Linked DNA regions of Homo sapiens. The protein of the gene in region 1 interacts with the protein of each later gene in a pairwise test. Each region holds a gene or a part of one and is shown in the gene's direction. Other genes may lie near its edges.

The links. The genes of interacting proteins can lie anywhere in the genome.
Region 2: the proteins of ZBP1 (region 1) and KRR1 interact in binary tests that used the Homo sapiens proteins (3 or more experiments, as listed by UniProt).

Annotation. Positions count from the first base shown.
Region 1 is NC_000020.11:57,610,423-57,617,446, reverse strand, and holds part of ZBP1 (Z-DNA-binding protein 1), read left to right. Parts: intron 1-978; coding exon 979-1,203; intron 1,204-1,866; coding exon 1,867-1,935; intron 1,936-2,386; coding exon 2,387-2,560; intron 2,561-4,116; coding exon 4,117-4,284; coding exon of another isoform or gene 4,285-4,361; exon of another isoform or gene 4,362-4,556; intron 4,557-5,362; coding exon of another isoform or gene 5,363-5,379; exon of another isoform or gene 5,380-5,516; coding exon 5,517-5,720; intron 5,721-6,751; coding exon of another isoform or gene 6,752-6,914; intron 6,915-7,024.
Region 2 is NC_000012.12:75,508,609-75,515,451, reverse strand, and holds the start of KRR1 (KRR1 small subunit processome component homolog), read left to right. Parts: upstream 1-3,842; 5' UTR 3,843-3,854; coding exon 3,855-3,939; exon of another isoform or gene 3,940-3,974; intron 3,975-6,843. UniProt on the Homo sapiens protein: Part of the small subunit (SSU) processome, first precursor of the small eukaryotic ribosomal subunit.

The DNA of each region.
Region 1 (7,024 bases):
GGACACTAGGGGAAGTTCTGCAGGGGACCCACACACAAGCAGCGTCCCAGCCACTCTGGGACACAGAGACAGGCTTTCCCTAGGAAGTGGCATCTGAGGAGGCCTGGAGGTTGAGTAGACATCATACAGGTTGGGGCGTGAGGGAAGGGTGCTCCTGGCAGCAGGAACAGTGTGCACAAAGGGGCTGGGGAGAGTGGGGCTGAAGGGAGCACAGACAGGCCAGCACTTGGAGGGAAGTTGGGGGCAGGTGCAGGCCAAGCTGGGTGGTTGGCAGAGCCAGATCTGGAGGGTACCTGACTGGAGCTGGCGGGCCAACGGGGAGCCTATCACTGTACCTAGGAGATGGTGAAGAGGAAGGGGGTGGTGCTGGCAGAAAAGAGAGGAGTGGGGGGATTCCAGAGAATCCAGGAATGGCATTTCCAGGGCTCCACGACTGGGCACTGGGGGAAAGGTCTGTTTCTGATGTCTGGTCGGTCTCTGGCTTGGATGGATAGTGGCGCCATGGATGGATGGTGAGCTGAGAGGAGGGCACTCCCGGGGAGGATGGCGATGGGCATCAGGTAAACCCAGGCAGGCGTCCCAGGCAGGACTTGCCTTTGCGCTCCCAGGTCCCCCTGCCTCCCTCTGGCTCCGTCCTTCTGCCCTCTACTCCCCTCTGCCCTGAGGACACCTGAGAGCTGAGGAACCCCACTGCCCTCTGGAACCCACACCCGGGGAGGGCACAGGCGAGGTGGCACCTCCCCTGGCCACCAGGCTGCGCAGCCAAGGCCGTTTCTGATCAGCCTGCATGCCTCCCTCTGGGCAGATGCAGCTGCCCTACTGCTCTTAGGGGGCATCTGCTGGGGTCCTTGCCCTTTCCTCTGCCCTGGACCCCTCTCAAAAAGGGGCCTACGTGCCTCCTGGAGCCTCCAGCCTGGGCTCAACTGTGGGGACCTGGGAGACTCAGTTCCCCTCTCTGTCCCCCGCTCGCTCCCCCAGGCCACCTTGAACAAAGAATCCTGCAGGTGCTGACAGAGGCTGGCTCCCCGGTGAAACTTGCCCAGCTGGTGAAGGAATGCCAAGCACCCAAGAGGGAGCTCAACCAAGTCCTCTACCGAATGAAAAAGGAGTTGAAAGTCTCCCTCACATCCCCTGCCACCTGGTGCTTGGGCGGGACTGATCCTGAAGGCGAGGGTCCTGCAGAGCTGGCCTTGTCCAGCCCTGGTAACTGCCACCCCGGGGAGGCGGGTCTGACCCTGCAGGGAGCATCCTGGCAATGGACAAGCACAGATTTGAGCCTGGGTTCGAATCTGAACTCTGCCACATGGGAGCTCACAGGTTTCCTCTCTCTGTGCCTTGGTTTCTTTTTCTGGTTGATGGAGCTCACAGCAGGGCTGCTTGGTAGGGGTTGCTGAGAGGAGGCCCTGCGTCAGGCTCAGCCCAGCCCTGCACACAGGAGGTACTCTGCAGAACACTAACAATTATAATAGAAAATCATCATGATGGAGACAGCAATGACGCCATGGTCCCAATCACAGAACATATGCAGTCCCACCAGCCCCCCTTTTCTAGCTTTACAGCCCACAGCCAGAAGGAGCTGCCATTTATCATGCACTTAAGATTAGCCAGGCACTGTTTTGGGGTTCACCCAGCCCTCACACAACCCCAGGAGGCAAAGGAGGCTGAGCCCCGGAGAAGTTAATCGGCAGGAAGCCGCAGCTGCCAGGGCGCAGGCAGGATTTGAAGTCAAGTGTGTTGAACTCTGGAGTCTGAGTTTGCAACTACCGGCATTGCCACTTACCCCTAGGGAGCTGCCCACCTTTGTGGGGTGGAGGCCTGGTGCTGTCTTCTGTCCCCCACCCCTCTGACCCATCTTTCTTTCTGCAGCCGAGAGGCCCCAGCAACATGCAGCTACAATTCCAGAGACCCCTGGCCCTCAGTTCAGCCAACAACGGGGTAAGTTTTTGCATGTCCCTTCAGTTCCCGGGACACAGGATCCCACTCCCCAGGAACCCCAGGCCCTCCTTGAGGGTACAAGATCTCACCAGTGTTCAGGGGCCCTGTCCCACCCACCAGGCAGCTCCCATACAGTGTTCAGAGCCAAGACCCAGCCCTCACAGTGGGAGAATCTGAATGGCTGAGCAGTGATTTCTCCAGTCAGACAATAGCTGACCCTCACCATGCACCCGCCACATGCCAGGCCCAGCGCAGAGCACTCTGTGCACATCCCCCACCCTCAGGGCACCTCTGCGGTGCGTCATGATGACCCCGTTATCATGACACCCATTTTACAGATGAGGAAACCAGGCCTTGAGGGGCTGGGTCCAGGGCCACACAGCTAGGAAGCGGTGGGGCAGATGCAAACCCTAGGACTACTCCCTAACCACCTGGCCATCCTGCCTCCCAGAGGAAGACATCTACAGGTTTCTCAAAGACAATGGTCCCCAGAGGGCCCTGGTCATCGCCCAAGCACTGGGAATGAGGACAGCAAAAGATGTGAACCGAGACTTGTACAGGATGAAGAGCAGGCACCTTCTGGACATGGATGAGCAGTCCAAAGCATGGACGATTTACCGCCCAGGTAGGCCCCCGGCTGCCTGTGTCTGGGCTGCAGAGGGAAACCATGACACTAGTGCTTGGTCTTTGCTGGGTGCTCTGCTGAGCAGCTCACCGGAAACTGCTAGAAGCTTCTGGAGGTCCTACCGACAATTCACTGCAAGGGCTTCCAGGAGGAAGGGGTGTGCTGGCAAGATTAACCAGGGACAGCTTTTTGGAGGCGTGGCCCAAGGTCTGCAGTTGCAGAAGGCCAGTGAATGGGACGGAGGTGGCCCATTCCCAATGTTCTCAGCTCTGGGGTGCAGGGATCAGTCTGAGTTTGGGAATGGTTTTCTTTGAGCACTTTGCTCAAGTTGGGGTTTAAAAGTTGGCAGAAGAGAAGGCAAGACTAGTCTTGGACCCCTACCGGCTGGAGCCCCAGGGTCAGCGCAGGGTCAGCTTCCCCGTGAGACCTAACACACACAGGGCCAAGATCCAATAGGTGCATGGCATTCTCAGGGGTCCTTGAAAATGTTTTAATTTTAATTTCATTTAAAATCAGAGGAAATGAATACTACAATAATAATGAATATCTAAAAATGGGCCAGGCACGGTTGCTCACGCCTGTAATCCTAGCACTTTGGGAGGCTGAGGCGGGCAGATCACCTGAGGTCAGGAGTGACCAGTCTGGCCAACATGGCGAAACCCCGTCTCTACTAAAAATACAAAAATTAGCCAGGTGTGGTGGTGGGCGCCTGTAATCCCAGCTACTCGGGAGGCTGAGGTAAGAGAATAGCTTGAACCTAGGAGGCAGAGGTTGCACTGAGCTGAGATCGCGCCATTGCACTCCAGCCTGGGCAACAAAAGCAAAACTCTGTCCCCCAAAAAATAAAATAAAATAAAATTTAAAAATCCAGCCTGGGTTATCCTTGCTATACAATGTAATTTAAATATTTGTGTATGGGGGAAGGGCCCACAAAGGCACAGGAGCTGAGACCCTGGAGGGTGGTGATGGGCCCCGCACAGTCTGGGCAGGTGCCTGCCTCAACCTCTGCAGGGCTGACTCTGCTACTCATGACGGGTGCCCGAGGGGGTCTCAGCATCCTAGGGCTGCTGTGAGGAAGGAATAACGCGTGACAGCCACCAGATTTTAAACACTAGTGACAAATTCAAATATTGAAAATGTCATGGGAGCCAAACACGACCGATCTGGCCCAATGGGCTGCTGTTTCTCGGCCATTACTCAAGGGAAAAGGGCAATGGTGCAGGTGCTCGGGGGTCCGGGCTGTGGCTGCCCCCTAGGGAGAGCAGTGTGGGGCCCCTGCGGTCCTCCCAGCCAGCAATCATGGCGGCCCAGCCATGGAGGCAGCAAAAGACACAGGTAGGGTGACTCACAGTGGCTATTTTCAAGTGAGGCTCCCTCTGAGGTACCTGTGGTGTCTGTTAAACACCCAGCTCTGGCCTCCCACTTGGCCCTACTGACTCGGAACGCCCAGGGTATTTTAACAAGCTCCCCAGGAGAATTTGGTGCTGCCGACTGGTATTGGGAACCCCTGACCCATAGACAGTGGCAAAGGGATACAGTTGAATATTATTTTGCAGAAGATTCTGGAAGAAGAGCAAAGTCAGCCTCAATTATTTACCAGCACAATCCAATCAACATGATCTGCCAGAATGGACCCAACAGCTGGATTTCCATTGCAAACTCCGAAGCCATCCAGATTGGACACGGGAACATCATTACAAGACAGACAGTCTCCAGGGAGGACGGTAAGTCACCCAAGAGAGCCCAGGGAGGGGACCTCGGTGGGGAGCCACCGGATCCTCTGGGTGGGGGCAAAGGGTAGGGATGGGGAGTGGGGGGATTCTGCCCTCCAAGGGGAAAGGGTTGCTTCCAGACCCCCACAGTCCACCTTTACGGCCGTCCTGAGAATGAGGACACCTGGATCAAAGCTCTCCTGATTTCCCTGTACTCTGATACTTTCTACCTCATTTTAAAGTTTAATTTAATTTTTATTTTTCTAATAAAATTTTAAAATTAAGATGGGGTATCTCTGTGTTGCGCCTGACCTTATGCCTCATTTTCAATGGGGTCCGGTGTTTTTCATGAGAAACAACTCAATTGCCTTTCCCTCCGCGGAATGCTACAGGGGAGGTTATTGTAGTACCGTATTTGTTCTGAGACACGCTACTTTCCCCCACATTTTAACAGGCTGGAAACTGGGGTGCATCTCACCACCTGTGGCATCCTAGTTTGGATGAAATGCGGTGTTGCACTTTGAGCACTTACCCTGTGCCGGGCACTGTGGCAAGAGGGGACAGAGCCACCTGTCAGCCCAGCCTTGTCACCTGTGAGTGACAGCATCAGCCCCAAAGTCGGGACACTCCCTGTAACCTTGGGAGAACCTTTCCCCACTGTCAGCCTCAGTTGTGAAATGAGGAACCTTGTTCTAGAATCTAGATCATGGTTTCCCTAGCTTTAATCTTCTGAGCCCCACCTTCCTGATTCTGGCCATACCCATGTCTGATTATTTAATTAATGTTGTTGAGTAGTGCACCTTTTTAAAAATTTATTTTAAAACAATTTTATAGTATTATTTTAAGTGTAAATCATGAAAAACACCATAAAAATAAATGTTGTCCCTGGCAGTTAAAACACTGCGGGAGGCTCTGAGCCTTTGGTGTTGGCACCAAACGAGACTTGGTCCCCATGAGGTCAGAAGGCTCGGGAGTGACTGGGAATCAGAACAAGGAGCTCATTGTTTGGGTTTGTGAGTGTCCCTGCAACACCCAGGACCAGCCCCGCTCCTGAGAACTCAGGGAGCCCCAAAATGAGCTATTCCGCCAGGTCCTCTTGCTCTCTAAGCCAGAGCCTGAAGTCTTTGGCCGCCAGTTCGATGGTGTCCAGGAAGAATTCAGAGGACAGGCCTGCGTGTGGTGGTGAGGGAAAGGAAGAAGCCTGCAGTAATCTCCGGTGAGGCTGTGCCACTGTCCCCTGCCAGGTTCCGCCGGTCCACGCCACCTCCCTTCAATGGCACCAGGTGATTCCTCAACTTGGGGGACCCTAGTTGATCCCTGGGGGCCCCAGGACATCCACATGGAGCAGTCCATACTGAGACGGGTGCAGCTGGGACACAGCAATGAGATGAGGCTCCACGGCGTCCCGTCCGAGGGCCCTGCCCACATCCCCCCTGGCAGCCCCCCAGGTAACTGGGATCTAGAGGCCAGACCCAACTCTGCCACCCCGTGGGTCCTCACTGGAAGGAACTGGAGCCAGAATCTTTTTGGGAAGAGAAGCATGATGGGAAATTCCTTTCCTTCCACCAGGCAGCTGAACCAGAGTAGAGCAGGTGGGGCTTTTAAAGCTAGCACTCTAGGCTGGGCGCGGGAGCTCACACCTGTAATCGTAGCACTTTGGGAAGCCAAAGCGGGTGGATCACCTGAGGTCAGGAGTTCGAGACCAGCCTGACCAATATGGTAAAACGTCTCTATCAAAAATACAAAAAAAAAAAAAAAAAAAATTAACCGGGCATGGTGGCTTGCGCCTGTAGTCCTAGCCACTCGGAAGGCTGAGGTAGGAGAATTGCTTGAACCTGGGAGGCAGAGGTTGCAGTAAACGGAGATCGCACCACTGCACTCCAGTCTGGGTGACAGAGTGAGACTCCATCTCAATAAATAAATGAATAAAATAAAGCTAGCACTCTGGATCCCCATCCCCTACGACCCACTGCAGGAAACCTCAGTTTCCTCATTTGTAAAATGAGCAGAGAAGCAGAGGCTGGGCCAACTGGAGCAGGGTGATGGTTTGAGACTGGAATGGTGTTTAGGGAGGATGGAAGACAGGTGCCGTACTAGGAGCTGTGGCTGCAGTGACCAGAGGGCCCCAGGCAGAGGCCTCCCCCACACTGGGAATGCAGAGATGGGCTGGGGGAGAAGAACCAGCAGAGAAGCCAGAGAGGGAGGAGGAAAGCAGAGGCCCCGGGAAAGGAGTCTCCAGAGAGGGGCCAGGCTGGTGAGACCAGGGAAGCATCTGTGGGGTTCAGCGAGAGGGATCGTGGTAACCTTGAGGGGGTGGTTTCTGGGGGCCAGGGAGCAGAAGAGGTCTCGGGGGTGGAGGGGGCGGGACTCAGTGTGGATGATTCTTCAGAAGTTTGGGTGGGAAAGGGCAGAGCCAGATGGCAGGAGCTGGGGCCAGGCTGGGAGCCCCCATAAGATTTCAACCAAAAGTGGGGGCCAGTGTTCCAGTGCAGTGGGAAGCAGGCAGCAGAGGAGAGAGGAGCTGAATCCCAGAGGAAGACACTGACGTCCAGATCAGCCGGGCGGGATCAGTGGGGCAGACCCACTGCGGGATCAGTGGAGCAGAAAGACGCTTCCCAGACAGCACAACAGCACGAGCGGAGGTGTGGCGGGTGGAGGTGTGGCGGGCAGGCACAGGCTGTGCTCCTGGGATGGTGTGGGCCACTGGTGGGAGATCTGGGGAGGAGGGTGAACCAGGCTGGGGGTCAGGGTT
Region 2 (6,843 bases), on another chromosome or scaffold:
ATTTCTTTTCTTTTTTTTCAATCTGGTGGGTGAGAAGTGATATTTCATTGTTAAGTCTGTATACTTTGTTGACAGTAGTGAGGTTGAACATCATATGTTCGTCAGTCATTTGGATTAGCTCTACTATAAATTGTTGTATTAGGGCTCTCCAGAGAAACAAAACCAATGTGTGTGTGTGTGTGTGTGTGTGTGTGTGTGTGTGTGTAATTTATTTTTATTTATTTTAAAAAATTGGTTCACATGATTATGGAGGCTGGCGAGTCCAAAATCTGCACGGTAGGCTGGCAGGCTGGAGACAAAGACAAGACAATGCTGCAATTCAAGTACAAGGGACTTCTGCTGCACAATTCTTCTTTCTCAGGGGAGGTCAATGTTTTTGTTCTATTCAGGTCTTCAACTGATTGGATGAGGACCACCCACAGTATATAGAGGACAATCTACCTTACTCAAAGTTCACTGATTTAAATGTTAATCTCATCTAAAAGTACTCTCACAGAAACATCCATAATAATGTAGGCCCAAATATCGGGACAATATTACCCAGTCAAGTTAACACTTAAAATTAACCATCACAAATATCTACTAATATATTTTCCGTTTTTCTTTTCTTTTTTTGAGATGGAGTCTTGCTCTGTCACCCAGGCTGGAGTGCAGTGGCATGATCTCGGCTCACTGCAACATCTGCTTCTTGGATTCAAGCGATTCTCCTGCCTCAGCCTCCCTAGTAGCTGGGACTACAGGTGCGTGCCACCATGCCCCGCTAATTTTTTGAATTTTTAATAGAGACGGGGTTTCACCGTGTTAGCCAGAATGGCCTCAATCTCCTGAACTCGTGATCCGCCCGCCTCGGCCTCCCAAAGTGCTGGGATTACAGGCGTAAGCCACTGCCCTCGGGCTTTCCTCATTTTTTGATTGAATTGCTTACATCTTTTTATCGCCTTGAATATTATTGTAATCAACCCATTAAATGTTTTGCGAATATTTTGCCCTCTTTTATATCCTTTATTTTTTTACCCTATTTCTCATCATTTTAAATTTTAAATTATTATTTTGAATACTTTATAATCAGTGAATCATTGAAATTGAGATGAAAATTTGGACACTGTCATTTTGATAATCACTTTTGAGTTTATAGTCTTCTAAGGTGATTTTAGGAGATTTTTCAATATTTATTTTCAATATGTATTCAATAAATATTTATAATTTTTAGTCATTATTCAATATTTATTTAAAATCAAATTGTTCTTTCAATTCTAATGAATTTTTGGAAGATGTTGAAATTAGATCTGCTCTTTTCCAAAGTAAGGAATCTAGAGCAAATAGTTCCCACATGTGGAAACTATTGTTAAGAGGTTTTAAAAGTTTAAACTACTCATATGTAATATTGGTTACAATGTTTAATTCTTAGAAGAACTAGTCGAATTAATTTCGGAATTTGTTTATTCCATACCACGTTTATTTTAAAATTTTTCTTCAAAATTGCTTAAAACATAGTCTAAGCAAATTGTTGAAACGTTGTTCTCATTCAATTTGACTGTCAATTTTAATTTTTAGTAAGTATATATATATGTGCTATTCCTGCTTGTCAAGCCAAAATATGAAAATTCAGTTAATGAGTAACAATATTTAAGCATCAGAGTCTGTTTTAAAACTGAAAAAAAAATGTATGTGTACTAAGGAAAAGCTTCAGCCTCTCAGTCTCATGCAATTTTCTATTCATTTAATTTTTATACATTACTTCTTATAACTACTAGCATCAAATTAGTATCTTGCTATATTTTATCTCATATTATCACAGAGGAAAAAGTACTGTATAATTATATATACCCTTCAGTATATGATTAATAGTCATTATAATTAATATTTTTAAATTAATTTGTGATTTTTGTTGCAGGATTCATTTTTTAGTAAAAGCTTTTATATCCTATATGTAAGATAACTCCCTATTCCTGTGATATAACTTGTGTTAGATTATGGGTTCTGGAAGGCAAGTAACAGACTTAAAAAAATTCACTTAACTTCCAATCATATATTGTTTTTATATTGTATATTCAGTTGGTGGACAACATGAGGGCTTTTGAGTTAGGGAAGGGAAAGAATCACTTAATACTGAAATAACTTATTGTAGGAGCCTGATGAATCTTTTCCTTTGGAAAGCAGACAGTTTTAGTGTGGTGTCATCTATAATAGGAGGTCTTGAGGACGTTAGAGAATCTTAGAACTCAATTATTATCCATGTTTTTACACCCCTTTCAGTAATGATTTGGAAAAAGATGTAAAAATTTCAAAAAGGGACAGGTGAACTGTGGGCTCTGCATAGTATGGTAATTAAAAGGTTGGGTTTTACAAACAGACTCAATAGTGCCAAGAAAAGGATGGGTGGGTTTTCGTTTTCCCATCTCCATCATATTCTCAATATTCCTCAAATAATAGCAATACTAAGATTAAAAATATACACGTAAATGGGAAGAAAAGCCTATGTAGAAAATTTTGCTATAAAATAAAGGGCTTTAACACAAATATTATTTCTAGACTATTCCCTCCCCTTAATCCCTATCAGCCCTCTAACACATTTGAAGCTCCTAATGAATAGTAGCCCCCTGAAGCTGCTAGGTCAAACTGCCTGAACTTGAAGACGGGCCTTCCACTTATTAGTGATTGAGTTACTTAAAATAAGAATGATAAAAACCTGCTTCATGAGGTGTACTCCTCACTTTATAACTTTCACCTGCTGCTATCTGTTCTATTTTAGGAATTTATCATTTTTTGAGGAAATTAAAAGAACAGAGATAAAATCCCTGTCATTTATAAAACTCACAGGATAAAAACAAAAAACCCCTCTGTCGTGGGTTCTTCTGTCCATATGTAACAATCTGTTTCATACCTGGATCTCATATATGAAAACCTAAATTATTGTATAAGATACACGAGAGTGGATTTATCAGACAAACGTGTATTTCACTAATGCAAGGAATTTAACCTATCAAAGACTTTCCCTATTTGCTGCAGAAAATTTTAGAAATGCAAGCAATAAAATCAAAATTTAAAAAAATCTTATATTTGGCATGTCGAAGAACTCTTATACTTCCAAAAGTGTAGTTATTTGTAGTTAGTGATGAACCTCTCTACACATCTTAGCCCTATGTAATGTTGGGGGTAGAAAAGGAGTTTAGAGATTTTGAGAAATCTTAGGCTAGTTGAAATACTTCAGAAACGTCAGGATGTTGAATTACCATCCCTCTGACTTAGAGAAATACCAACACTCGGGAAGATTACCATCAGAAACAACTTTGAAAAGTTTAATTTTGTCACTGTTTTTAAAATTAGAAATAATGTAAATAAAGTACTGAAACAAAGTAGTCTCACAATAAATAGTAGCTATTCCTGTCACTTGTTGCAGTGGAGGCCCAATATACATTGTATTCTCATATTTGTACTTCCTCCCAACATCTAGCGCATATTTGGCCAACATATAAATATTTATCGAAAGAATGAATGACATCAATGACAGGTTGGTAGCACTCCGCTGTCCGATGGTCCAGGTTAGGCCGTGAGGCCACGAGGAAACTACGGATAAAACAGTATCCAATTTGCCTATACCGCCTGCTAAACTACAAGTCCCAGTACGCAAACTCCATGGTTTCAGGGCATACTGGGAGAAAGTCTCCGGCTCTTCATTGGCCACGTAGGAGAAGCTGTGGTTTGTGTAAAAGCGCGGGCTTAACGCACGTACGCACGGAGACTGCGCAGATCTCCTCGTCTGAGTTCCGCGGAACTCATTTTGAGTGTAGGCGTTTTAGCCGGTAGGGTTTAAGAACAGTTTCATTTCCGGAGCCACCGGAAGCAGCTTGCAAATGGCGTCTCCCTCGCTGGAGCGGCCAGAAAAAGGCGCTGGAAAAAGTGAATTTCGTAACCAGAAGCCGAAGCCGGAGAACCAAGGTGATGTTATGTGGGAACCGAAGCCTGGGGTTTGTGTACGTTGAGTTGCGATGTTTTTTTCTTTCGTTCCTCGTGGACTTATAAAACCACCTGGAGCCTGTACTGTGTAGTTGAGTACCTGAATAATCGCTGATAAGATTTTGGCTGGGCCCACAGGAACGGCTGGCCGATATGGTGCCACCCAGGTGTTCCTAATTCATTGCTTTTGCTAAAGGGTCCCCAAAGCGAAGCTGTTGCGGATTACGTCTTTTGTAAAAGGATGAGTATTAAGAAAATGCCTAGGGCGACGCAGAACCTTGTAAGCCTGCGGGTGGCTGAAAGTCACTGACGGAATGAGGAATAGGGTGAGGTGGGAATAGGTAGTCATGATATACAAGAGTGGACCCTGATAATGGGGTGAGGTATGGGGAAAGGAGCTATCCGACATGTCCTTAGCTCTAGTTTGTCAGTAAAGACATTTTGAAAGATTATCAATTCCTGTTTGTCAGATGCTAAAATATTAGACGACACAGCCCTTACTGTTTAGGTTGTGTTACCTTTTAATTGTTAACTCCTGCGTTGTAGTCTGGTTTTACCCGTTTTCTTCAGTGTGAATGATAGAGAAGTCATAAATAGCCTGGGGATCTGTTCAACCAGGCTTATAGGAAGTGTTAAAAACATTGAACTCTCAATTTAGATGCATTGGGAAAGTATTCAAAGTTTCTTTGTTGTTGCTCATTAAATGATTATGTAACGTACATAGCAGGGGATACAACTTATATAGAGTTTAATAAAACCATGCGGGAAACTAGCATTCAGACTAAGTAAAATAGAGCATTACCATACCCCTCAAACCCTTACGTGCACCTCTCAGATCATATTCTCTTTTCCTGTATCAGACGTAACCACCCTGAATTGTGTTGCATTCTGTTCCTCTTCTTGTAGTCATGAAGTGGCTTAATTTAGCCTGTTTTTTAATTTTATATACATGAAAGTGGACCGTATGCATTTTTCTGTGTCTTCTTAGATTTAGCTTTTTGTTTTTCAAACAGGGTGATACTTGCGGGTGTAGTTTTAGTCTTTTCACTGTTATGTGGTGTTTCCTTGTATGAATATACCCCAATTTATTTTTTCATTTTACTATCGGTGGACATTTGGATTGTTCCCAATTGCTTGCAATTATAAACAATACTGCTAAAACATCTTTGTACATGTCTTCTGGTTAACATGTTCAAGGGTTTCTCTAGGTTGTGAACATAGGATTGGAATCACTGAAGTGTAGGGTGTGTGTAAGTAATGCTAACTTTTTTCCAAAGTGCTAGTGTCAGTTTTGTTCCCACTAGGAGTGGACGAAAGTTGTCATTGCCTTACATTAGTATGAATACATGTTATCTGAATTTTGAATTTCTGTCATTTTGGTAGTTATGAAATGGTATTTGGTTGCAGTTTTAGTTTGCATTTTCTGATCACCTATGAGGTTGCATATCTTTTCACATGTTTTGAGGCTTCCTTAATTGTGAAACTCCTGAGTATTTCTTTTGTCAGTTTTTTTCCTGAGGTTGTAGTGGGGATTTTAAAAAAAATTATCCATAGCCTTTGAAGTGTTTAAATTGGATAGGGACTTCGTCAGGTAAACATTGTAAGTAACTAGTTGCAGTGACTCACACCTGTAATCCCAGCACTTTGGCAAGCTGAGGAGGGGGGATTGCTTGAGCCCAGGAGACCAGTCTGGTCAACATGGCAAAACCCTTTCGCTACAAAAAAAAAAAAAAAATTAGCCGGACATGATGGCACATGCCTGTAGTACCAGCTACTTGTGAGGCTGAGGCAAGAGAATAGATCGCTTGAGTCCAGGAGGTCCAGGCTGCAGTGAGCTGGGATGGAGCCATTGCACTCCAGCCTGGGTGACAGAGCGAGGCCCTGTCTTTAAAAAAAAAAAAAAAAAAAGAAATGTGTATAGTATATAAGTAATCACTTTTGTGGAATTCGTGTTCTTTAAAGGACATTGGAGAATCCTTTATATGAAGACTAGCCAATTGTCTGTGATTTGAACCAGAAATAGCAACGTGGATGTGAGTATAAGCAGAAAGTTTACCTGTCTGAGGCTGCTAACATAGGGTAATGACGTGTTTTTCAAACTTTACCGTGCTTAAGAGTCTCCTGTTGAGCATGGTAAAACACAGATTCTTGTCCCTCGTCGAAGAGATTCTCATTCAGTAGGTCTGTAGTGGGGCCCAATAATTGCATTTCTGACAGACTTACAGTTTGTGCTGATACTGCAAGTCTATGGATCATACCTTTGAGTATAACTGAATTAGAGTATAGCTATTGAAATTAAGGAGTTCTTCAAATTCAAGATCAAGAGTTTTTTAAATAAATGATTCAGAAGATAATTTACGGCCCTTAGGAGGCATTTTCTTGTAGTGAAAGGAGTCCCAGGCTGAGTGAGCTTTGTGTTCCCTTAGGCAAGTCACTTAACCTTTTTAGACCATCTTCTATAAAATGAGAATAATAATACAGATTCTACCTTTTATAGTTACGATGAAAGGCGTATGGAAATAAGGCACTCAAAATGCTTAGGAAAATCTAGAATTACCAGTGATTATTAACTGAAAGATAAACTAGAATTCTCTTTCAGAAGTTTTACACAAACACATACATCCAGATTCCATACACTCCAGGAAAGTCAGAAAGGTTAATTGTATTTAAAATACTAACCAAAATGGCATTCAAATCTTCAATTTTATGATAGTGTAGTGCAGTACATGTTTCTGGAGTACTCACTATCTGCCTGGCATATGCCAACTAGTGTGAAGAGGGTTTCTGCTCTTAAGGAACTTTGTCATATGAGGCAACTGAAATGTGTACAGATAATTTTAATACAGAGAATTGATGATAATGACAGAGGAACGTTCTTTGACTCTT